Linked DNA regions of Homo sapiens. The protein of the gene in region 5 purifies or fractionates together with the protein of the main gene of each other region. This does not show direct contact. Each region holds a gene or a part of one and is shown on either strand. Other genes may lie near its edges. The genes, in order: SAP130, BRMS1L, ASF1B, ARID4B, RBBP7, SUDS3 and ING2.

Region 1 (3,500 bases), on a different chromosome or scaffold from region 5:
TTTGAGACCAGCCTGGGCAACATGGCGAAACCCTGTCTCTACAAAAATACAAAAAATTAGCCAGGTGTGGTGGCATGCGTCTGTAGTCCCATCTACTCAGGAGGCTGAGATGGGAGGATGGCACTCAGGAGGCTGAGATGGGAGGATGGCACTCAGGAGGCTGAGATAGGAGGATGGCACTCAGGAGGCTGAGATGGGAGGATGGCACTCAGGAGGCTGAGATGGGAGGATGGCTTGAGCTCGGGAGGCAGAGGTTGAAATGAGTTGAGATTGCGCCGCTGCACTCCAGCCTGGGTGACAGAGCGAGAACCTGTCTCAAGAAAAAGAAAAAAAATCGCAAGACAGTAGAAATAAACTTAGAGCAATCCATGTTTTTAGCATGGTTTAATATGTGCTTATTATAGTTGTATTACAAGTGTGTATATTTATGCAATTAAAGTGTTTAATATGGTCTAAAATTGTCCTATATATTGAGGAACTGCCCAAGCTTTGATAATCTCAACATGGTCTTTATTATTAGACTGCTTATCTGCAACATGGTCTTTATTTTTAATACATAAGTCACAAATATTAATACTGAATATTTTTAAAGTTCAGTGATGATCTTTACTCAGTTTTTTAACTTATGTAACAATAAAATGATGATGATAATTATTTTTTGAGATGGGGCCTCACTGGGTTACCCAGGCTGGTTTCAGATTTCTGGGGCACAAGCGATCTTCCCACTTTAGCCTCCTGAGTGGCTGGGACTACAGGTGTGAGCCACCACATGGCTAAGATTAATTTATTTTTACCCTTAAGTTCTAATAGGTTGTGAGGTAATAAATGAATTTTGACTAGAAATTTTTACCTTTTATTGGAGACTTTACAACAATTGGAGATTGTTGGCAAAATCAAGTTAGCAAACGCAAGACCAGGTTTGCTTGGTTATAGCATAACTCAGCAGTTCTCCAAATGTGGTTCACAGGCCCTTATGGGGGTCTGCAGGGTGAAAAGTGCAGGGTTAGGTTTAAGGTTAAGGTTCATAATGTGTCCCTTTGGCAATGTCGACGTCTGCTCTAATGGAACAAAGACTGGAAGGCAAAGTGTCCGAGCCTCGTCAGAGCTGAGGCAGTGGCATCACACTGCTGTTCCCTGTGTGCTTTACCACTGTGCACACTTGCAGTTAACAGAAACAAAAAACAGCAGCTAGTTTCACTTAAGGTTGTCTGTGAAGAGGCAATATAAATTATTATTAAATCTCTTGAATACACATTTTCTTTGTTTTCTCTGTGATGAAATGGGAAGTATACATACCATACTTCAGCTCGATATTGACATGCTATCTGAGTTTTGGGAAACATACTGATTATTTTCCCAGGGAATATAACTAGAATAAATATAATAAACACTTTTTTTTTTTCAGGTGCAGCTGCTGCTGCTGTGATGTCCAGTTCTAAAGTAACCACAGTCCTGAGGCCGACCTCACAGCTGCCAAATGCTGCTACTGCTCAGCCAGCAGTACAGCACATCATTCACCAACCAATCCAGGCACGTCGGAGCCTGGGGTGCATTAAGGGCCTCATTGGAGTTATTCATTCTGCCAGGCACTAGGCACATCCTTGACCTCAGGGACTTTCCATCTAGTTGCCAAGACATAGGGAAGTTTGAAAGATGCACAGTGTCATGTGGCAAGCTGTAAGAATGCAGAGGAGAGATGGTGGGAAGCCTTCCTGTTGGAAAGGCTGTGCTAACGAGGAATCAGAGAAGTGAAGAGGAAGTGAAGGGGGAAATGAACAGTGGCAAGGAAGGGAGTGATGGTTGTAGACAGCAGTTAGTAAAGGCTAGCTAGGATTGAGGGATTTTAATTTGGATTGGGGGGATCTGTGGACTCCTAAAAGTTAGGTGTATATCTATGTATATTCCAAGAACATGGTCCATGCCATTCAGCTTTTTCTTAAGGAAATCTATGACCTCATTATTACTGAAGTATAATATATTTGCAGGAAATATAGTATCTATAAATTGGGTTCTCTAGGATATGGAGTATAAACTAGACTTTATATACAGTAGAGAGCCACTGCGTTTTTTTGTTTATTTGTTTTTGTTTTTTGAGACAGTCTCACTCTGTTGCCCAGGCTGAAGTGCAGTGGTGCGATCCCAGCTCACTGCAACCTCTGCTTCCTGGGTTCAAGCGATTCTCCTGCCTCAGCCTTCCAAGTACTTGGGACTACAGGTGTGCACCACCATGCCCGGCTAATTTTTATACTTTTAGTAGAGACAGGATTTCACCCTGTTGGCCAGGCTGGTCTCGAACTCCTGACCTCAAGTGATCTGCCTGCCTCGGCCTCCTGAAGTGCTAGGATTACAGGCGTGAGCTACTGTGCCCGGCCAAAAATCATTTTTGTCTTTTTAACACAATGGCTCTGTGTATCATTAAAGTAATACTGTTGAAAGATGAGATTAGGCCAGGCGCAGTGGCTCACACCTGTAATTCCCAGCATTTTGGGAGGCCAAGGCGGGCGGATTGTCTGAGATCAGGAGTTTGAAACCGCCTTGGGCAACATGGTGAAACCCTGTCTCTACTAAAATGCCAAAAAATTAGCTGGGCATGGTGGTGCGTGCCTGTAATCCCAGCTACCTGGGAGGCTGAGGTGGGAGAATCACTTGAGTCCGAGAGGCAGAGGTTGCAGTGAGCCAAGATCGTGCCACTGCACTCTAGCTGGGACGAGAGAGTGAGACTCCATCTCACAAAAAATAAGAAAGATAAGATTAATCTAGCTGAATCACATACAGGAGGTCTGTCCCCTTAAGCACTTTCAGGGGACAGACAGATGTATGAAACAACTGGGTTTAAGATAATAAGGAAGTCTTGATTATGATACTGGGTAGTATCTGTCTAGCCTACAGCTTTCAAGATAAATACTTTTCTGGCCAAGAAAACAGAGTCGGAGGAGTATTAGGCCTCTAGTAGTATATGTGATACATATGAAGGGTTGGAGGAAGACGAGAACCAAGACAAGGAGCTCCCGAGTGAGGAAGCTGGTGCTGTAGCCCTAGTGTGAGACACGCACCTGCACATGGTAGAAGCGGCAGGTAAAAGGGCTGTAGATGAAAAGCAAGGATGAGGAATGGGCAGAGCTCGGCCATTTAGATGCATGTTTCAGGGTTAAGAGCAAGGGAAGAATCAGAACTCAGGTGATTCGAAGAATAATGGTGGGTATGTGGATGAAGCCCAGTGTGGAGCTTATTTTTTAGAGGAAGATTTCACACGTAAGTGTGATAAGGGCACTCTGTCCATGTGAAAACATCCAGAAAGGATATGGGCACCCTGAACGATTACCTAGAAAAGAATACTGTTACCTTGAGTTGCCCTTGTACTCACTAACGTAGATGGCCTGAGAGCCAACAGCTCTATTCAGCAGCTGAGTAGGCCCTCTGTGGAGGTGCTGGGTTGGATGGCAGCGTAAAATGTCTACACCAGGACCAACAACAGACCTGTGGCAACTCTAGATTGAAGG
Region 2 (3,500 bases), on a different chromosome or scaffold from region 5:
CTTTCCCAGGCTGACGCCTATGCTGTTTCTCATCAGGAGAGCTTTAAAAAGCCCCAGGAAAGTGGCCCCAAGCTTCCATTATTGTACCGACCTCACACTGACCTGTATTCAGAACCAACTCCTCTTTGGCAGTTCCCTGACTTAACATACCTCACAATTCTCAACTTCTATCAGGACTGGAGCCCTGGAAGATTTTCATAGGCTATTATCAGAGAGTGACCCATTAAAACGCTACAATAGTTTTTTTTTTTTTTTTTTAAGCATACTGCACTGGAATAAAAAAAATGCAGAGTAGAATTTTAAAACTTAGAAACAGACTCTGGCTATGCGGAAATGACAAAGGTGACTTTTTAAATCATCTGGGAATCTGACAATAAATGACAAGAGAAAAATGAGTTTAGGCCAGCCACGGTGGCTCATGCCTGTAATCCTAGCACTTTGGGAGGCTGAGGCAGGTGGATCACTTGAGGTCAGGAGTTCAAAACCAGCCTGGCCAACATGGTGAAACCTCGTTGTCTACTCTACCAGAAATACAAAAAAATTATCCAGACATGGTGGTAGACACCTGTAATCCCAGCTACTCAGGAGGCTGAGGCACTAGAATCGCTTGAGCCCAGAAGGTGGAGGTTGCAGTAAGCCGAGATCATGCCACTACACTACAGCCTGGGTGACAGAGCAAGACTCTGTCTCAAAAAAAAAGAAAAATGATTTTAACTATATCCTGAATATTTTTTGCTTTACATTATACAATTTACATTACACATAAAAGTAAATGGACTAAAGGATTAAATTTATAAAATGAAAGCTAAAAGAAAATATTAAAGAAACAATATATAAGAAATTTCCCAGAACTGAAGATACGAATTTTTTTATTAAACAGTTCATCTGGTCAGGCACAATGGCACACACCTATATTCCAGCACTTTGGGATACGGAGGCAGGAGGATCACTTGAGCCCAGGAGTTTGAGACCAGCTTAGGCAACACAGTGAGACCCCATCTCTACAAAATATTTTTTAAAATTAGCTAAGCATGGCAGCGTGGGCCTGTAGTCCCAGCTACTCAGGCAACTGAGGCAGGAGGATTACTTGAGCCCAGGAGTTGGAGGCTGCAATGAGCTATGATTGCACCACTGTACTCAAGCCTGGGCAATAGAGCGAGACTCTGTCTCTTTAAAAAAAAATTCAAATAAATAAATACATAAAATCAAAAGTTCCTCTGGGTATCCAGCACAATGAACGAAAAAAGACCACATCAAAGCACATCATCTCACAATCCCACAATACCAAGACAAGAATAAAGAGAAGATCCTAAAAGTATTCAGGAAGAAAACAGGTCATGTACAAAGGATCAGGAATCAAAATGGTAAGAGACTTTACAAAAGCAACGCTGGAAGCTAGAAGATAATGGAACAATGCCTTCAAAATTCTGAGGAAACATGATTTCTATCTAGAATTCCATACTCTTAAGTGTGAGCGTCAAGATGTTTTCAGACAGGAAAGATGTGGTGGTTTTAAAACATGTCCAATAATCCTTTGATACTCCTAATTTCAAATGGTAGAGACTAATACTCTTTCTTGAATACGGGTAGGATGGGCCAGGCACGGTGGCTCACGCCTATACTCCCAGCACTTTGGGAGGCTGAGGCTGGCGGATCACTTGAGGTCACAAGTTCAAGACCAGCCTGGCCAACATGGTGAAACCCAGTCTCTACTACAAAAAAGGAAAAAATAAGCCGGGCGTGGTGCAGGAACCTGTAATCCCAGCTACTCGGCAGGCTGAGGCAGGAGAATCACTTGAACCCAAGAGGTGGAGGTTGCAGTGATCCGAGATTGCACCACTGCACTCCAGCCTGGGTGACTAAGCAAGGCTCCATCTCAAAAAAAAAAAAAAAATGGGTAAGATATAGCAACTGACTTCTAGTGAACAAAATCTGGCAGAAATCTAGGCCATAAAAACAGTCACCTCTGTCTTGCTATCTTGGATCACTAAGTCTGGAAGAACCTGGGTACCAGGTTATGAGGACACTCAATCAGCCTGTGGAGAGGCCCATGTTCTCACATGGGTTCTCTAAGGCTTCTCACCAAGAACCAGCAACAACTTGCCAGCCTGCGAGTGAGTCACCTTAGAAGCGGATCCTCCAGCCTCCAATCAAGCCTTGAGATGACTGCATCCCTGGCTGATATCTTCACTGCAACTTCTTGGGATTCCCTGAGCCAGAACCATCCAGCTAAGTTGCTCCCAAATTCCTGGCCACTGAGACTGCAAAATAATAAATGTTTATTGTTGTGTTAAGCCACTAAGTTTTGGAGTAATTAATTATAAAGCAATAGACAAGCAATACAAGAAATCTCAAAAAACTAACTTCTAGAAATCCTTTGTCAGGATGCTACTGAAAGATACACTCTACCAAACTTAAGGAGAAAATAAGATGCTAGCAGAGGAGAGGTGAAGGGGACATCCAGGTTGCTGGTAAAGAGATGCCCCAAGAAGACAGATGCAGCTGGCCTCCAAATGAAAGATGGAGCAGGAGGATAGGGGACACGAGGGATAGAGGGGTTGCTTCCAGGAGGGAGCCCTTCAGAAGAAAATGAGGCTGATGGATTATCTGATAAGTTTGATCGCAGAGAAAACAGCGTTAGGACTTCAGTGTCTGAAAGAAGCAAATATGAGGGGGTTTTCTAGGTCATTCTAGAAGTCATCAGAAGACACTGTTTACACCTAACTTTAAAACGAGAAGCAGTTTTGACCTTTACTGGACAGGAGTTTAAATCTTCATACAGTTGAAAACTTATGAGAGGTCCAGTGCTTTTTTTTTTTTTTTTACTTTTCTTGAGTCCATTAGGTAACATGCTCTTTATTTTGTGGAATACTCAGGCTTCATGAAAAATCAATACAACTGTACATGTTTAGCTTAATTAAAAAAAAAAACAGCATTAGGAGGCCCTCATAGATCTGCTAAGGTCTGTAGGAAGAATTGATAAACACAGAGAAAACTAACAAACAATAAATGAAGCAATTATTAATTCCAAAGTTTAAAAAAATACACAAGAAAAATTTTAAACATAATGTAACTCTTGACTCAGTAAACAATATTTATAATTTAAAACAAAAACTGTAACACAACAGTATTAGAAGAATGAAACAGAAAAATCCTCAGCTTCCATAATAGGAAACCAATAGATAATGTCTAAAACTGCTTTATTTAGAAATATGAGGGCCAGGCGCAGTGGCTCACACTTATAATTCCAGCACTTTGGGAGGCCAAAACAGGAGGATCACTTGAGGCCAGGGGTTCAAAACCAGCTGGGCAATATAGCAAGACCCCCATCTCTATAAAAAAATTTTTTTTTAAGAAAGGAATATGAGGGTAAATTCCAGAAGCAACTGATACACAAGTTAGAAATATAATTGCCACTGGGATACAGAATTTAAAAATAGGACAGAAGACTGCTGTTTTTCATTATAAATTATAAGGCTATGCCTTCAAAAATATATACA
Region 3 (3,500 bases), on a different chromosome or scaffold from region 5:
TGAGACAGGAGAATCGCTTGAACCTGGGAGGCAGAGATTGCAGTGAGCCAAGATCACACCATTGTACTCCAACCTGGGTGACAAGAGTGAAACTCCATCTCAAAAAAGAAAAAAAAAATTAGCTAGGCGTGGCAGCGGGCACCTATAATCCCAGCCACTCGGGAGGCTGAGGTATGAGAATCACTGGAACCTGGGAGGCGGAAGTTGCAGTGAGCTGAGATCGCATCACTGTATTCTAACCTGTGTGACAGAACGAGACTCCATCTCAAAAAAAAAAAAAAATACAAGAGCCTATCCCTGCCTTCTTGCTGTTGAGCTATTTCAATTAGTTAACCCTCCTATATCTTTGCAGACCTGGAGTGGAAGATCATTTATGTTGGCTCGGCTGAGAGTGAGGAATTTGATCAGATCCTAGACTCGGTGCTGGTGGGCCCTGTGCCAGCAGGGAGACACATGTTTGTCTTTCAGGTAAGAAAGATGAGGCCTTAGGCCTTAGCCCTTGATTCCTAGAAACATCCTCTTTTACCTGAAATCCCACAGAGTGCTTCAGGAATCAAAAGTTCAAGTTCAGCTGGGCACGGGCTCACGCCTATAGACCCAGCTACTCCAGGGACTGAGGTGAGAGGATTGCTTGAGCCCGGGAGTCTGAGGCTGCAGTGAGCCACTGCACTCCAGCCTAGGCAACACAGTGAGACCCTGTCTCTAAAAAAGAAAAAAACAAGTATTAAAAACATAGAGGCCGGGCACAGTTGCTCACACCTGTAATCCCAGCACTTTGGGAGGCCGAGGTGGGAGGATTGCTTGAGGCCAGGAGTTTGAGACCAGCTGGGGCAATATAGTGAGACCGCATCTCTACAAAAAATGTAAAAATCAGCAGAGCATGGTGGTGTGCGCCTGTAGTCTCAGATACTTGGGAGGCTGAAATGGGAGGATCACTTGAGCCTGGGAGATGGAAGCTACAATGAGCCAAGACCACACCACTGCACTCCAGCCTGGGCAACAGTAAGACCCAGTCTCAATCAATCAATTAAAACAATTTAAAAGTTCAGGTTCAAATCCTAGTTCTACTGTCAGGAACTATCTGACCTCTCAGAGGCCGTCAGGCCCTCCCTTCCCCCACCTCTGTGTCAAAGCTGCCACTGATTTACAGGCAATTCCCATTATTTACAAGAGTTACGTTCTATAAAGTTGCCGCGAACACTGAATTAGTGAATACTGAACCATTGCCCCAGGGGAAATACAGGGTTAGATTCTTGGAAGTCACATTTTCGTCAGCTGGTTAATACGTAAACTTGTATGTGTGTTTATGTTGAAAAGACACCAGGACGGCTATGATGGCTCAAACCTGTAATCCCAGCACTTTGGGAGGCTGAGGTGGGTGGATCGCCTGAGGTCAGGAGTTCAAGACCAGCCTGGCCAATGTGATGAAACCCCGTCTCTACTAAAAATACAAAAATCAGCCAGGTGTGGTGGCGCATGCCTGTAATCCCAGCTACTCGGGAGGCTGCGGCGGGAGAATCGCTTGAACCTGGGAGATGGAGATTGCAGTGAGCTGAGATCGCACCAGTGCACTCTAGCCTGGGTGATACAGCGATACTCTGTCTCAGAAAAAAAGGAAAGATACCTTATTTAATATATACAGTGGTTCATTTATGTTGAATTCACAGCCAACAGCACTATAACTCTCCTGAATGAAACTTCTCTAATACGCATATTTTCCATAAAGCCTTTCTTGTATCCTACACTGCACTTCAGCACTACCGTTGGGTGCCATCATAGACAGCAAACTCACCAACAAAAAGCACAAAACATGGAAAAAAGCACTAAGTAGGCTGAGGAAAGGACGCTCATTCACAGTGAGAGCTGAGACCAGAAGACAGAGTGTTGCCTTGTTTGACCTCAGGTGGGAACAGGCGTGGTAGGTAACTCTAGGTGGGAACAGGCATGGTAGGTAACTCCAGTTTTTCCCTGCTCTGTGCATGTCTGCAAGTGACTGTGAAAGCAAGCAGGTGTTCATCTTGGGGTTACAAATAAACTTAGCAGGTAGGTGAACTTGCACATATGGAACCCATGAATAATGAGGATGGACTGTAACTCCTAAATGGCTCTCATGCAGCACCCCACCTGGGTTGTCAAATGTAGATTCTGGCCGGGTGTGGTGGCTTCCAGCACTTTGGGAGGCAGAGGCGGGAGGACTGCTTAAGGCCAGGAGTTCCAGACTAGCCTGGGCCACATAGCGAGACCCCCATCTCTACAAAAAATAGAAAAATTAGCCGGGTGTGGTGGCTTGCACCTGTCGTCCCAGCTACTTGGGAGGCTGAAGCAGGAGGCTTGCTTGAGCCTGAGAGTTTGAGGCTACAGCGAGCTATGATTGCACCTCTGCACTGCATTCTGGGTGACAGCGAGACCTGTCTCTACAAAAAAAACATTAACCAGGCATAGTGATGCAGGCCTGTAGTGCCAGCTACTAGGGAGGCTGAAGCAGAAGACTCACTTGAGGCCAGGTGCCATGGCTCACACCTGTAATCTCAACACTTTGGGAGGCTGGGGCAGGCAGATCACTTGGGGTCAGGAGTTAAAGACTAGCCTGGCCAACATGGTGAAACCCTGTCTCTACTAAAAAATACAAAAATTAGCTGGATGTGGTGGTGCACATTTGTTATCCTAGCTACTCGGGAGGCTGAGGCACGAGAATTATTTGAATCCAGGGGGCGGAAGTTACAGTGAGCTGAGATTGCGCCACTGCACTCGAGCCTGGGCAACAGAGTGAGACCCTGTCTCTAAAAAAAAAAAAAAAAAAAAATAGGCTCGCTTGAGCCCAGGAGTTCCAGGAGTTTACAGTGATCTGTGATTGCACCACTGCACTCCAGTCTGGATGACAGAGGGAAAAGCTATCTCTTTAAAAAAAGAAGGCCGGTGCAGTGGCTCACGCCTGTAATCCCAGCACTTTGGAAGGCCAAGGTGGGCGGATCACAAGGTCAGGAGATTGAGACCATCTTGGCTAACATGGTGAAGCCCCATCTCTACTAAAAAATACAAGAAATTAGCCAGGCCTGGTGGCGGGCACCTGTAGTCTCAGCTACTCAGGAGGCTGAGGCAGGAGAATGGCGTGAACCTGGGAGGCGGAGCTTGCAGTGAGCCGAGATCACGCCACTGCACTCCAGCCTGGGTGACAGTGAGACTCCATCTCAAAAAAAAAAAAAAAAAAAAAGAAGAAAGAAAAAACAAATGGAGATTCTGAGTTCTCCAGGTGATTTTTCAGGATCCTCTGCTCGGATACACTCCCTTACCTCCATCACTGCTGTTACCGCCCTAATCCAAGCTACCACATCCTATCTAACCCCTTCAGCCACCACTACTAAATCCACTGACAGGCCCTATCTACTCAACAGTCAGGACTGGCCTCCTGGGTGTGCAACCCAGGCAGCTGCACAGGACCCCACACTTGGTGCGATACTCTGCTGTCACCGTCTGAAACCTAATAGCTTTTCTGGAGGGGC
Region 4 (3,500 bases), on a different chromosome or scaffold from region 5:
TAGTAGAGACGGGGTTTCACTGTGTTAGCCAGGATGGTCTCAATCTCCTGACCTCATGATCCACCCACCTCAGCCTCCCAAAGTGCTGGGATTACAGGTGTGAGCCACTGTGCCCGGCCCTGAATTCTACTTCAAAAAGGCTCAGATCTATCCTCTCTGCTCCACTTCCAATGCATTAGTTCAGGCCCTTATTCATTTTCCACTTGGACTTCTTACCTGGAATTTCCATCCTTACATTCAGCTCTCCCCTTGTTTTTGCAGTGGCCTGATCTCAGCTCACCGCAACCTCCAGCTCCTGGGTTCAAGCAATTCTCAACAACTTTCAATGGTTCCATGTAGTTTTCAAGAAAAAATTTTTTTTTTTTTGAGACAGAGTATTGCTCTTGTCACCCAGGCTGGAGTGCAATGGCATGATCTCGGCTCACTGTAACCTCCACCTCCCGTGTTCAAGCTATTCTTCTGCCTCAGCCTCCCTAATAGCTGGCATTACAGGCTCACACCACCATGCCCTGCTAATTTTGTATTTTTAGTAGAAACAGGGTTTCACCATGTTGGCCAGGCTGGTATAGAACTCAGGTGATCCACCTGCCTCAACCTCCCAAAGTGCTGGGATTACAGGTGTGAGACACCATGCCTGGCCAAGAAAATTTTCGACTCCCTCACTCAGCTTCATCTCCCACCACTGCCCTTTTATTCCTACCCAAACATATCATGCTTTAAGTTAATTCAGTCACACCAAATTACTTACAGTTTCCAGATACTTCACCTTGTTTCGTTCATTTTCCAGTACGTTATCCTCTATCTGAAAAACTTTTCTTCCCTTCTTTGCCTAGCAAAAGCCTTCGCACTCAGCTTAGATGTCAACTCCACCAGAAAACTTTCCATAGCTCTCTGATTTAGCTGTCCTCTTCTGTCCTCTCATAGCATTTCCTACAATTATTTTATGTTGGAATACTCATAAATAGATATGCTAGGAGTTTTGCTTTATTTATCTGCATCTTCTGCTACACTGTGGGCTCCCTGAAAGCAGGTCAGATGCCTCACCCACCTTCATTCTATATTACCTGATATATGAAACGGGTTGTTGTTAAATGAATGACTTATGAAAGGGGTGAGACAGAAGGAAGAGGGGGAAGGAAAAGAACAGAGAGGGGGGAACGAACTGACAGAGTGGATAGGGAGACAAACAAAGGTAGAGGTAGGGGGAGAGAGAGAGAGAACATGTACACACACACAGGGCATTAAAAAAGGGAATTTGTAATCAATCCATTATTTTTTCATGTGGCCTAAGCCAATCATTGTTGAAGAAAGAAAAGTACATCTGGAAAATTCAATCTACGTGGATTCTAAATATAACCACCTTTTTTTTTTTTTTTTTCCTGAAATGGGGTCTCCCTGTCACCCAAGCTGGAGTGCAGTGGTGCCATCTCGACTCACTGCAACCTCCACCTCCTAGGTTCAAGCGATCCTACCTCAGTCTCCTGAGTAGCTGGGAATACAGGCATGCGCCACCATGCCCAGCTAATTTTTTTATACTTTTAGTAGAGACGGGGTTTTCATCACTTTGGCCAGGCTGGTCTTGAACTCCCAACCTCAAGTAATCCACCCACCTCAGCCTCCCAAAGTACTGGGATTACAAGCATGAGCCACCATGCCCGCCAAAGTATAATCATCTAAATCATTCCTCCTCTAAAGATTCTGGTATATCCAGCCCAACCAGCCCATTTTAATTGAAAATTTACTGCTACGTAATAAAAGACGTTAATAACATGTACAATATAGATACAGGAAAAAAAAGTTTGAGTTTAAAAAAAGTAAAAATCGGCCGGGCGCAGTGGCTCACGCCTGTAATCCCAGCACTTTGGGAGGCCGAGGCGGGCAGATCACCTGAGGTCAGGAGTTCGAGACCAGCCTGACCAATATGGAGAAACCTTGTCTCTACTAAAAGCACAAAATTAGCCCGGCATGATGGTGCATGCCTATAATTCCAGTTACTCAGGAGGCTGAGGCAGGAGAACTGCTTGAACCTGGGAGGCAGAGGTTGCAGTGAGCCGAGATCGCACCACTGCACTCCGGCCTGGGCAACAAGAGCAAAAGTCCGTCTTAAAAAAAAAAAGTAAAAATCAACCTGACATAATAAAAATAAGTCTTGGAATTATTTACAAACTTTAATAATCTACCACCTCCTTATAATGTGGTACTGCTGATTTTTATTTTATTTTATTTAGTTTTTTTTTTTTTGAGAGAGAGAGTTTCACTTTTTTCGCCGAGGCTGGAGTTCAGTGGCGCAACCTCAGCTCACTGCAACCTCCGCCTCCTGGGTTCAAGCAGTTCTCCTGCCTCAGCCTTCCGAATAGCTGGGATTACAGGTGTGTGCCACCATGCCCAGCTAATTTTGTATTTTTAGAAGAGACAGGGTTTTACTACGCTGGCCAGGCTGGTCTCAAACTCCCTTGACCTCAGGTGATCCTCCTACCTCGGCCTCCCAAAGTGCTGTGATTACAGGCGTGAGCCACCATGCCCAGCCGGCACCACTGATTTTTAAAAGTCTATCAAGAGCATGAAAAATAAATTCAACATAACACCAACATCACGATCTATGTTACAGCACAAATTCCTTATGTATTACGAATCATATTCCTCAAAAACATACTGTGAAAAAAGTAACATAGCATATATTAGACAGTAATGGGAATGTATTTGTTTACATAAATTCTTAAAGGTAGTACATGGGAAAACTGCTAAAACATACAACACTTCAACTTTAAAACAACACCTAAAAAGTATTACTACATAATCTAACTTTCAATCACCTCAATAAACTGTCACTTAATAAAATTTAAAGATTTGTTGTCGTTAATACAACAGACAATTCAAACTTAAAAGCTTGCTCCCAAGTACAAATATGTTTGGTAAGATCCAATAAATGGCATAAAACCTTCTGTAGCTCAATGATCATCGTAATACAGAAATTACACCAGGCACGGTGACTCTCGCCTGTAATCCCAGCACTTTGGGAGGCTAAGGCGGGAGAGTCACCTGAGCCCAGAAGTTCGACACCAGCCTGGGCAACACGGCAAAACCTCATCTCTACAAAAACTACAAAAATTAGCCAGGTGTGCCTGTAGTCCCAGCTACTCAGGAGGCTGAGGTGGGAGGATTATTTGAGCCCAGGAGGCAGCAGTTACAGATCGTGCCAGCCAGGGTGAAATAGTGAGACTCTATATCAAAAAGAAAAATAAAAAAGAACGAAAGAAATTGGGAACACACAGAAAAAGAAACAAAATTTAGGCCTAATACACTCAACATTAAATAGATTCTGAATTGCAATTTTTGCTAAAGCAAAATACAAATTACAAGAAGCTTCTCATCTTTTATCACATAAGAAATAAAGTTGTAAGAAATAAGCTAAGTTTTTAGTACTAATAATTACTAGCAAATTCTCTGAGATTTGCTATACTTATAATAACAGGAAGTACTTGTATGAAGTTAGAAATTTA
Region 5 (3,500 bases):
CTTGTAACATAATTCAAAATAGCCCCAAAGTAGAAAGAACTCAAATGGTTCATCAACTGACAAATAAGCTAACTGTGGTATATCCATACAGTGGAATATTGTTCATCCATAAAAAGGAATGGAACATAAGTAATGTTACTTGAAAACATTATGCTAAGTGAAAGAAGCCAAACAGAAAAGGCCATATATGAGATTCCATTTACATGAAATACCAAGAACAGATAACTCTATAGAGACAGAAAATAAATTAGTGCTTACCAGGAGCTGGGGGAAGGCAGGGAATGAGTGGGGAGTCACTGCTTAATGGGTATGGAATTTCTCTTTCAGAGAGCGAATGAAAACATTCTAGAATTAGTGGCAATAGTTGTGCACCTTTGTGAATATACTAAAACCCACTGAACTGTACACTTAAAAAATACTTTATATTAATCAGGTCCCACAAACACTCTACAGTTTCCATTTTAAGGGCCTGGAGGGTCCTCTTTTAAATAATGGGAGGCCTTTTGCCTATGCTCCCTCCATTCTAAGGCTACTTCAAAAGAGCTCTGTGGAATCCGAAGACTCATACAGGGCAGTATGAAAACCATCTCTCTAAAGTCCTGGGGGAATGTTACCACAATAATCAGCAGTATTATCTTAGAAAACCTTTCATCTATATAGTACTCCTTCAGCACAGCTGTGACACGTCAGCTCTCACTATATGAACAAATTACAAAGAATACGTTTCTCACATGGTCATCAGATGCACTTAGGAGATGTCCACTCAAATTTGAATTCCAGGAGAGACCATAGCCTTCCTTCTGGTGACCTCTTAATCTGAGATCAGGATTACATTCTCCACTTGGGTCTAAGAAAAGATGAAAAACATTAAGTTATTCTCTGTTTATCAGAACTGGTGAGAATAAATTCTCACTCCTTCATTGAGTGAACCATTACAGCAACTGCACACGAACGAGATCTGGTCTTTAATACCCAATGCAAATTGAGCCTCATGACCATTAGATGATTGGTTTCTTTGGAAAACCTAATACTATCCCCAACACAAAAATATTAAAAACTATAGCTATCCTACAAATTTGGGCAGTGGTGACCGTATCCCCGCAACCCCCCAATTTTTTAGAAATATTTCTAACACAACAGGTCTGGTTGCTCAGTCCTTGCATGCCTCTAGGGTAGCCTGCAACCATAAATGACCCTTGGCCAACCCCTGGGAATGTGACCCTCAGAAAGTTCTTCACGTCACTGACTGATAAAGTTTTGTAAGCCCAGAGCAGTGGGGTATGCCATAGGGACCTGTCAAGACTTGTAGGATTGTTTAGCAAGATTCACAATGTATTTGGCTTCACTATTGGGGTCCTCAATTTTGTTACCATGGCTGGTCATAGAACAGGATGTGCCCACGCCAACAGACCTCCACAAAAATCCCAGATTCTGAAACTCAAATGGGCTGCCCTGGGTAGAGACATTTAGCACATGTTCCTATGGTTTGCTGCTAGAGACAAAACATGTCCCACGTGGCCCTGGATGGGAAGGACTCAGACGCCTGTAGCTAACCCCTCTGGACTTCCCCTGATGTGTATCTTTTTCTTCCTACTCTTGCTCTGGATTCTTTGCTGTAATAAACTTTAGCTGTTAGTATAAGCTGCTTTTAGGTAGTTCTGGCAAATCCCTGAACTTGAGGATGGTTATGGGACCCCCAAAGCAATTTTTAAACCTTTAAATATTATAAAGTATGCTACTTTGACCTTAAAAACATTACCAGTTTGAATCAAGAAAACTGCTCAAGTAATGACCTAACTCTATTATTACATACCTGGTTTAGCAGGGTGTTTTGTATAGTCAAAAACCAACACATCAGAAGATGGTGTTTTTGTAGCAATGATGTGAGGATTCTGCGGCATGTAACGAGCACGGTTTACTTCTCCTTCGTGATTGATTTTAATTTCACATTCAATTTTTCCTGTTACAGAACCAAAGCCACCAAATTCTAATGTGAGGAGAAAGAAACACACACACACACACTCAGGATTAAAATTCACAAATCACTTAGTTCAATCAACCTAACAGATTTTGACCTGGCAGAATACAACACAAACTGACAAGACAAAGACAGAAACATGCATAGAGAAAACCCAAAAATGTGGGTTCATTTGCCACATCAATTTATTCTTAAAGCCCATTTGCACTGGAAAATATTGGTAGCTGCCTTATGCAACTTAATTCAGTTCCACCTTGGATCTAAAACAACTGTCCTCTTTCAGTTATGAAGATGATATAGTTATTCACTGAAATTTCAAGTAACCATATAATAAGCAGACCAATAGCTTTTTAGTTCAAATACAACTCACTGTAAGTACTGCACTGAATTAGCATCTTATTTTAGGATTCATCAAAACAGGAAAGGTTTTAACCCTCCACAGTATGAACACCCTTTGAGTCTGAAGTCAGAAGCATCCTCAAATCAATCAGAAACCCACGCTAACCCCTACCTGTCCCTAAACACACATACATTGGCCCTGCCAGCATACTTGGTTTAACTGCTAGTGCAGTGCCAAGGTTAACCTCTCCGCCCATCTGGTGTGTGAATAAGACTATAGTATTAAATAATCATGAAAAAGGCCTTGTAAAGTAACAAAGTCATATAAAAAGTACGGTAACTTCCAAGAAGTAGCAACATGTTAGCAGAAAGAATACAAGTAGAGAACATCTAAGCAAATACAGCAAACAAGAACATTCTTTTTTGTGCTCATAGATAAAAAAACCTGAATTAGTTGCTGACGCTTAAAAAGATAGGAGGGTTCACATTACAATTGTGTTATTCTTCCTGACCTATATTGCCTTTTCTTTGCACATTCCATTTTAGCTCACCCTGTGTCTCAGGTCAGGGACAACTAACACAAATGCCTACTGGAGCCAGACAGGTAAGAAGTAAAATAGACCGGGGCCTGGAGCAACCACCAAAAGGAGCAAACCATTTCTCAGTTCCAGGCAGCTCCTTCTATGTGGAATGCTTAATGAACACTCGCTTCCATGTCTTAATATCAGTATCTAGCCGTTCCTCTCTGAAGCAAACATAGCTTACTATTTCAGTGTGGTTGAAAAAACCGTATCTCAAATCCACGATTACTCCAAAGCTCCTCTACCCACTACTCTCATGTGACCACATGCAAAAGGATCCTTTTTCCTCGTAGCACCTTCTGTTCCATGGTGTCAATGGAAGAAATGTGCCTCGGCATGCTAAGACCCCTCCTGATCCAATCGTCTCCTCCCTCCTGAGACTGCTCCAAATCTGCTCCACTTTGACCTTCAACATCCCATTCCATGGACTCCAGTGGCTCTAACCCTTCTGCTACAAAGATACTCAAGTTTCCTGATTCCTTTAGCTAAAACAACCTGAAGAGCTCTCCTTTAAAAAAAAAAGGGGGGGGGGCGGGGCTTCCAAGTAGGATTTACTTTGAACACAGAGTTTTGTTTTCTCAAACTTAAAATTTTGAAAAGTC
Region 6 (3,500 bases), on a different chromosome or scaffold from region 5:
TTCTGATGCACTTTAGATTTCCCCTTGAATTACACAAGGCATTCCATTTTAACCGAAATTTTTTCTGTATCATCAAATACTAAGGGAGGCCAGGCAAGGTGGCTCACGCCTGTAATCCCAGCACTTTAGGAGGCCGAGGCGGGTGGATCACTTGAGGTCAGGAGTTCGAGACCAACCTGGCCAACATGGTGAAACCCTGTCTCTACTTAAAAAAAAAAAATTAGCCAGACGTGGTGGTGGGCGCCTGTAATCCCAGCTACTCGTGAGGCTGAGGCAGAAGAATAGCTTGAACCCAGGGGCTGGAGGTTGCAGTGAGCCGAGATCATGCCACTGCACTCCAGCCTGGGCGACAGAGCAAGACCCTGTCTCTTAAAAAAAAAAAAAAAAAGGCTGGGCACATTGGCTTATTCTTGTAATCCTAGCACTCCAGGAGGCCGAAACAGGAGGAATGCTTGAGCTCAGGCATTCAAGACCAGCCTGGGCAACACAGTGAGACCTAGTTTCTACTAAAAATTTTAAAAATCAGCTGGGCGTGGTGGCACGTGCCTGTTGTCCCAGCTACTTGGAAGGCTGAGGTGGGAGGATCAATGGATTGAGCCCCAGAGGTTGAGACTGCAGTGAGCTGCTATCATGCCACTGCACTCCAGCCCAGGCAACAAAACAAGATACTGTCTCAAAAAAAAGTGGCTACTGTCTCAAAAAAAAGTGGCCTGGCACGATGGCTCAGGCCTGTAATCTCAACACGATGGGAGGCTGAAGCAAGCAGATCATCTGAGGTCAGGAGTTCAAGACCAGCCTGGCCAACATGGTGAAACCCCGTCTCTACTAAAAATACAACAACAAAAAAATCAGCCAGGCGTAGTGGCGCATGCCTGTAGTCCCAGCTACTCAGGAGGCTTAGCCATGACAATCACTCGAACTCAGGAGGTGGAGGTTGCAGTGAGACGAGATCATGCCATTGCACTCCAGCCTGGGTGACAGAGTGAGACTCTGTTTCAAAAAAAAAAAAAGTAATCCATCTTTATTCAGCACTGGTTAGACCTAGCTGAATTACCCCTTTGAGTTCCAAAGCACAAAAACAATGTGAGAATCCAGAGGATGGCCACAAAACATTTGCAAAAAGGACCTAAAGGGAAATGAATGTGGATCATCCTGTTAAAAGGTAAAGAACTTTAAAAACCTAACACATTCAACAAATATACATTAAATATACTTTATACCGTTTTCCATCTGGGTGTACGCTAAAAGTGAGTGAGGTTTTCGTTTCTCTGAATCTGTTCGGCTGTGGCTCTGTCTGAAGACAATGAGAAGGTTTGGGTGAGAGCAGGTGCAAACGTGGACAGAGCACTGGCCTGAGAGTCAGCATGTGGCCAGGCAGGGTCGCTCACGCCTGTAATCCCAGCACTTTGGGAGACCAAAGCAGGTGGATCACCTGAGGTCAAGAGTTTTGACACCAGCCTGGCCAACATGGAGAAACCCCGTCTCTATTAAAAATACGAAAATTATTAGCCGGGCATGGTGGCATGTGCCTGTAGTCCTTGCTACTCGGGAGGCTGAGGCAGGAGAATTGCTTGAGCCCAGGAGGCAGAGGTTGCAGTGAGCCGAGATCAGGCCACTGCACTCCAGCCTGGGCAACAAAGCGACACTCCATCTCCACACAAAAAAAATAAATAAATACAAAAATTAGCCGGGCATGGTGGTGCATGTCTATAATCCCAGCTACTTGGGAGGCTGAGGCAGGAGAATCACTTGAACCTGGGAGGTGGAGGTTGTGGTGAGCCAAGATTGCACCACTGCACTCCAGCCTGGGCAACCGAGCAAGACTCCATCTCAAAAAAAAAAATTAAACAAATAAAAATAAATAAATAAATAAATAAGAGTCAGCAGCCTGCTTTTCAATCGTGGCTTCTCTGAGCTCTCCAGGCCTCCGGCACCTTGTCTAGCACATTAGTGCAGTGAGTTTACACTCACCTGAGAACCCAATTGCTTCAAGACAACAATTACCCTCTCTGTGCATTGGTTTGCCCATTAAAAAAGAAAAGAAAAAAAAAGGTCCGGGCGCAGTGGCTCGCGCCTGTAATCCCAGCACTTTGGAAGGCCAAGGTGGGCGGATCACGAGCTCAGGAGTTCGAGACCAGCCTGGCCAACATGGTGAAACCCTGTCTCTACTAAAAATACAAAAATTAGCTGAGCGTGGTGGCGTGCACCTGTAATCCCAGCTACTCAGGAGGCTGAGGCAGGAGAATCATTTGAATCCGGAAGGCGGTGGTTGCAGTGAGGAGATCCTGCCACTGCACTCCAGTCTGGACGAAAGAGCAAGGCTCTGTCTCAAGGAAAAAAAAGAGTAAGTAGTAAAAGGTCCTCTCCTGTTGTACGGCCTCATTCCCTCCCCTGGGTCCATTGCCCTCAAGATTCTTTCTAGAGAGTACTCAACAAAGTCTTATAACGGGAAGACTGATTAAATGTAATTAATTTAAAGTGGAGAAATTGTAAACATACATGGTCTTTGGAAGCGCTATGGTCAAACTCATACACACAAGGTTACTACAGATTAAGTATCCCTTATCTGAAATGCTTGGGATCAGAAGTGTTTTGGATTTTTTCAAATTTTAGATTATTTGCAATATACTTACCAGCTGAGCATCCCACATCCAAAAATCTGAAATCTGAAATAGTGCAATGAGCATTTCCTTTGAGCATCATGCTGGCACTCAGGAAGTTTTAGATTTTGGAGCATCTGAGATTTCAGATTTGGGATGCTCAATCTATATAAAGATGTTGTCAATTCTATGTTCCAAAAAGACATAGGCATATCATACTCACTGTTCCTTCATTTCTACATAGTCTTCTTCATCATGCTTTGCCAGGTCAGTTTCACTAGCATCCTCAGTGTCTGAATAAAGTTAGGAAATAGGGGCTAGTTAAAATCATAATTCACGGAGTTGGCGTCACCTGACACAGAGTATGCACTCAATAAACTCCCGTAAAATCAATTTCTATTCAAGGCAGGCTTGCACAAAGCCATCAATGAAAAACATTACATACAGTTAGTAGGCCATCCCTATCTGCAAACACGAAACCTGTGGACACAAAAGGCCAATGCAAAGAATTTGAGTATCCTCAGGTTGTAGTATCCATGAAGTCCTGGAACCAGTCCCCCATAGATACCGAGGGACAGCCGTACTTCAGAAAAGAAAAGGCCATTTCCAACTTACAGTCAGATTTATGCAAAAAGCTTGCCTTTACCTGAAATGCAGCCACAGAATAGGGTGTCTCAGGCACAGGCAGTTATGGTGAAGGCTGCTACTTCTGCAGAAACAACAATGCTGGCAACTCAAGAAAGGAGATGCAGGCGTAAGACTGGACACTGCAGGCAGTCAAGCCTTACTCGCTGCTCCAGAAAAAAACTAGTATGTACATTCTCTTCTGATACATACCCAGTTGGAACCCTTCGCACATTTTACATCAGGATACACGGTTGTCCCTCAGTATCCGTGGGG
Region 7 (2,436 bases), on a different chromosome or scaffold from region 5:
AGATATTAGGTCTTAAAGAGAGCACACCTTCCAGGATTTTCCAGGTTCGTTTTCCCGTCAAGTCTAATCCAAACTTTGGCATTTCTATTAGGAAGTCGTTTCTTTTCTCCCATCTGCCAAGGCAGATTTACGTATGAAAAAGTGGTGACTTCTATGTAAGTCGCATCTGAAGGCTTTGGGGGTTTTGTCCATACTGATATTTTTAATGGTGTCAAGTAAAAAGCTCCATTCTGGTAACAAGGTTGTAATCACTAAAACAAAATGCCATATTCTCAAAAGGATTTCCTTACAACTCAGCTAAGTTATGGTGATGAGAAAGGATTTGCTAAATTCTTAATCATGCTGTCTAACATTTCTCACTCAAAAGGTAATAGAATCAACTAGCTCTAGTCATGAATCCAAATATTCTTAGGACAGAAGCTAACAAATATTGCACATTTACCCATCTCCAAACTCACCTTTAAACTATCTTTATACCTCAGAATGAAGGACAAAATTAATGAAAAGAGAAGTCATGTCATTATTAAAATCCTCACTATAGTGCAAATAGTAGAAATTTCCAAGGAATCTCGGAGATATTTAAGCCAACTCATTTTACAGGTGAATGACCTGACACCCAGACAAGGTGAAATGACATGCCTAAAAGTCACACAGGAGAGCTAGAAGAGAAAAAAAGCATTTTTTTTTCCCAAAACAAGCAGACAGGATTTTTCATGTTAATCAAAAAGAATCAAGATCATCAGATTAGGAAGAAATGAGGAATAAAACATACGTTACACACAGATTTAAAGAACTAGTCAATCTGCTGCCCCCAAAACCAAAACCTTCTCTAAACATATGGACATATATCCATCAAGATGCTTACCCTTCAAATATCAGAATCTTGGAAAATTCAATTTACAAATACATTAATTGCATTATGATGATGAAATAAGTTAATTAAATGTGAAAACATCAAACAGCACCAATACTAGAAGTTAAGACAGTAAATACACTATTATTTAAAATAGTCACTGATTGGGACAGAAATGAACAATAACCACTAGCAAAACCATTTAAAACAACTCTCTGACATAAAGGCAATATTTAAAGACTACTATATGCCCCTTTCCACTGATAGGCCTGTGGCTACGCATCCTGGCAGCAGGTCACATGGAAAATACTATTAATTAAGATGTATTTTTAAATTGTTCAACCTTGAGCCGTGATACTATATAACCCAAAGTTTGCCAATGTAAGCCAATGTATATTTTTGGTATGCTAACTACTCTTACCTGTCCCAATTAAAAGAAAACACAAAACAACTCCCTTATTAAGCACTAGACTAAGTATATCTACAAAGCAGCAGCAAGGCATTGACAAATGGGCTACTGACAGTGGATCAAAATGCTACTAAGCAAAAGACAGCAGCACGTACTCTCATAAGAGCACATTATTCCACATGGAATCCCAAATTACTCTTATCTCCAGTTCCTTAAACTCCTAGAAGACTAGAGATGAACAAGCCAACGTATAAATAGGACTAGGGAAAAAGCAGCTCAAATGGCATAGTGTCTGTATTTTAAAGTACCCAAGATCATTTGATGCTTAAGAGAAATCCCACTACATCTAACATTTTTTTAAGCATGTATAACTAAAATGCTAGTGAAACTTTTGTGTTTACCCAAAAAATAACATTGCAGTTTTAAGTGAAAATGAAATAGGCATGGTTTGTGAAATTTTTATAATGTTTACACCACCCTCTTCCTGTTCCCTGCTCCTTTCATCAGGTGATCTGAAGACTACCTGGTTGGAAATATTTGGTAACTCAGTGCAGAAAATTAAGGTCACAGACAAAGTACAACAACTTTTAATACACCATTAATACTAATGATTAAAAATTATTGCATAGTCTTATGCATTTACCCTAAAACATTTTCTGAAAGCAAACGAATTATATAAAAGACAAATAACCCTTTAAAATGTGGATGGCCTTTACTACCTCGATCTTCTATCCTTTTTTGTCTTTTCAGTACTTTTGTCCATTGTTTTCTCATTATCTCCCCTGCACTTTGGGCAATACCATTTCCCCTTTGGTTTATAGGTAAGTGAAACACATGAAAAGTGAAACCATTCAATTGGACACTGTTCATTGTCACATCCTATCATCTCCCCATAAGACACTTGGTTGCATAAGCAGTATGTAGGTTCATTAGGATCTATTGCAAACTCAACAGGTGAAGCTTCCCTTTCCTGCTTGGCCTTGGAGCGTTTCTTTTTCTTTGCTGACTTGGATTTCTTTTCTTTAGGTGGCTGATCATCACAGTCTTCAATCCCATTTGCCATGTGACATAAATCACGGCTTTCACTGGTCCGCTGCCTGCGGGGTCTTCTTGAAGATCTTTCTGGTTGGCTGGAATCCATCTTTGCTTTATCTGAGGCTCGTTCACTTTCAGC

What was found.
Region 1: the proteins of RBBP7 (region 5) and SAP130 purify together in Homo sapiens (affinity purification with mass spectrometry; 5 studies listed by BioGRID and IntAct, with this or other methods). This does not show direct contact.
Region 2: the proteins of RBBP7 (region 5) and BRMS1L purify together in Homo sapiens (affinity purification with mass spectrometry; 6 studies listed by BioGRID and IntAct, with this or other methods). This does not show direct contact.
Region 3: the proteins of RBBP7 (region 5) and ASF1B purify together in Homo sapiens (affinity purification with mass spectrometry; 5 studies listed by BioGRID and IntAct, with this or other methods). This does not show direct contact.
Region 4: the proteins of RBBP7 (region 5) and ARID4B purify together in Homo sapiens (affinity purification with mass spectrometry; 5 studies listed by BioGRID and IntAct, with this or other methods). This does not show direct contact.
Region 6: the proteins of RBBP7 (region 5) and SUDS3 purify together in Homo sapiens (affinity purification with mass spectrometry; 5 studies listed by BioGRID and IntAct, with this or other methods). This does not show direct contact.
Region 7: the proteins of RBBP7 (region 5) and ING2 purify together in Homo sapiens (affinity purification with mass spectrometry; 5 studies listed by BioGRID and IntAct, with this or other methods). This does not show direct contact.

What each region holds. Positions count from the first base shown.
Region 1 is NC_000002.12:128,011,060-128,014,559, reverse strand, and holds part of SAP130 (histone deacetylase complex subunit SAP130), read left to right. Parts: intron 1-1,405; coding exon 1,406-1,530; intron 1,531-3,500. UniProt on the Homo sapiens protein: Acts as a transcriptional repressor. May function in the assembly and/or enzymatic activity of the mSin3A corepressor complex or in mediating interactions between the complex and other regulatory complexes.
Region 2 is NC_000014.9:35,857,338-35,860,837, reverse strand, and holds part of BRMS1L (breast cancer metastasis-suppressor 1-like protein), read right to left. Parts: intron 1-3,500. UniProt on the Homo sapiens protein: Involved in the histone deacetylase (HDAC1)-dependent transcriptional repression activity. When overexpressed in lung cancer cell line that lacks p53/TP53 expression, inhibits cell growth.
Region 3 is NC_000019.10:14,123,090-14,126,589, reverse strand, and holds part of ASF1B (histone chaperone ASF1B), read left to right. Parts: intron 1-352; coding exon 353-468; intron 469-3,500. UniProt on the Homo sapiens protein: Histone chaperone that facilitates histone deposition and histone exchange and removal during nucleosome assembly and disassembly. Cooperates with chromatin assembly factor 1 (CAF-1) to promote replication-dependent chromatin assembly.
Region 4 is NC_000001.11:235,321,680-235,325,179, forward strand, and holds part of ARID4B (AT-rich interactive domain-containing protein 4B), read right to left. Parts: intron 1-3,500. UniProt on the Homo sapiens protein: Acts as a transcriptional repressor. May function in the assembly and/or enzymatic activity of the Sin3A corepressor complex or in mediating interactions between the complex and other regulatory complexes.
Region 5 is NC_000023.11:16,856,863-16,860,362, forward strand, and holds part of RBBP7 (histone-binding protein RBBP7), read right to left. Parts: intron 1,988-3,500; coding exon 1,814-1,987; intron 848-1,813; coding exon 732-847; intron 1-731. UniProt on the Homo sapiens protein: Core histone-binding subunit that may target chromatin remodeling factors, histone acetyltransferases and histone deacetylases to their histone substrates in a manner that is regulated by nucleosomal DNA.
Region 6 is NC_000012.12:118,379,555-118,383,054, reverse strand, and holds part of SUDS3 (sin3 histone deacetylase corepressor complex component SDS3), read right to left. Parts: intron 2,894-3,500; coding exon 2,824-2,893; intron 2,086-2,823; exon of another isoform or gene 1,367-2,085; coding exon of another isoform or gene 1,221-1,366; intron 1,196-1,220; exon of another isoform or gene 1-1,195.
Region 7 is NC_000004.12:183,510,494-183,512,929, reverse strand, and holds the end of ING2 (inhibitor of growth protein 2), read right to left. Parts: coding exon 1,978-2,436; 3' UTR 501-1,977; downstream 1-500. UniProt on the Homo sapiens protein: Seems to be involved in p53/TP53 activation and p53/TP53-dependent apoptotic pathways, probably by enhancing acetylation of p53/TP53. Component of a mSin3A-like corepressor complex, which is probably involved in deacetylation of nucleosomal histones.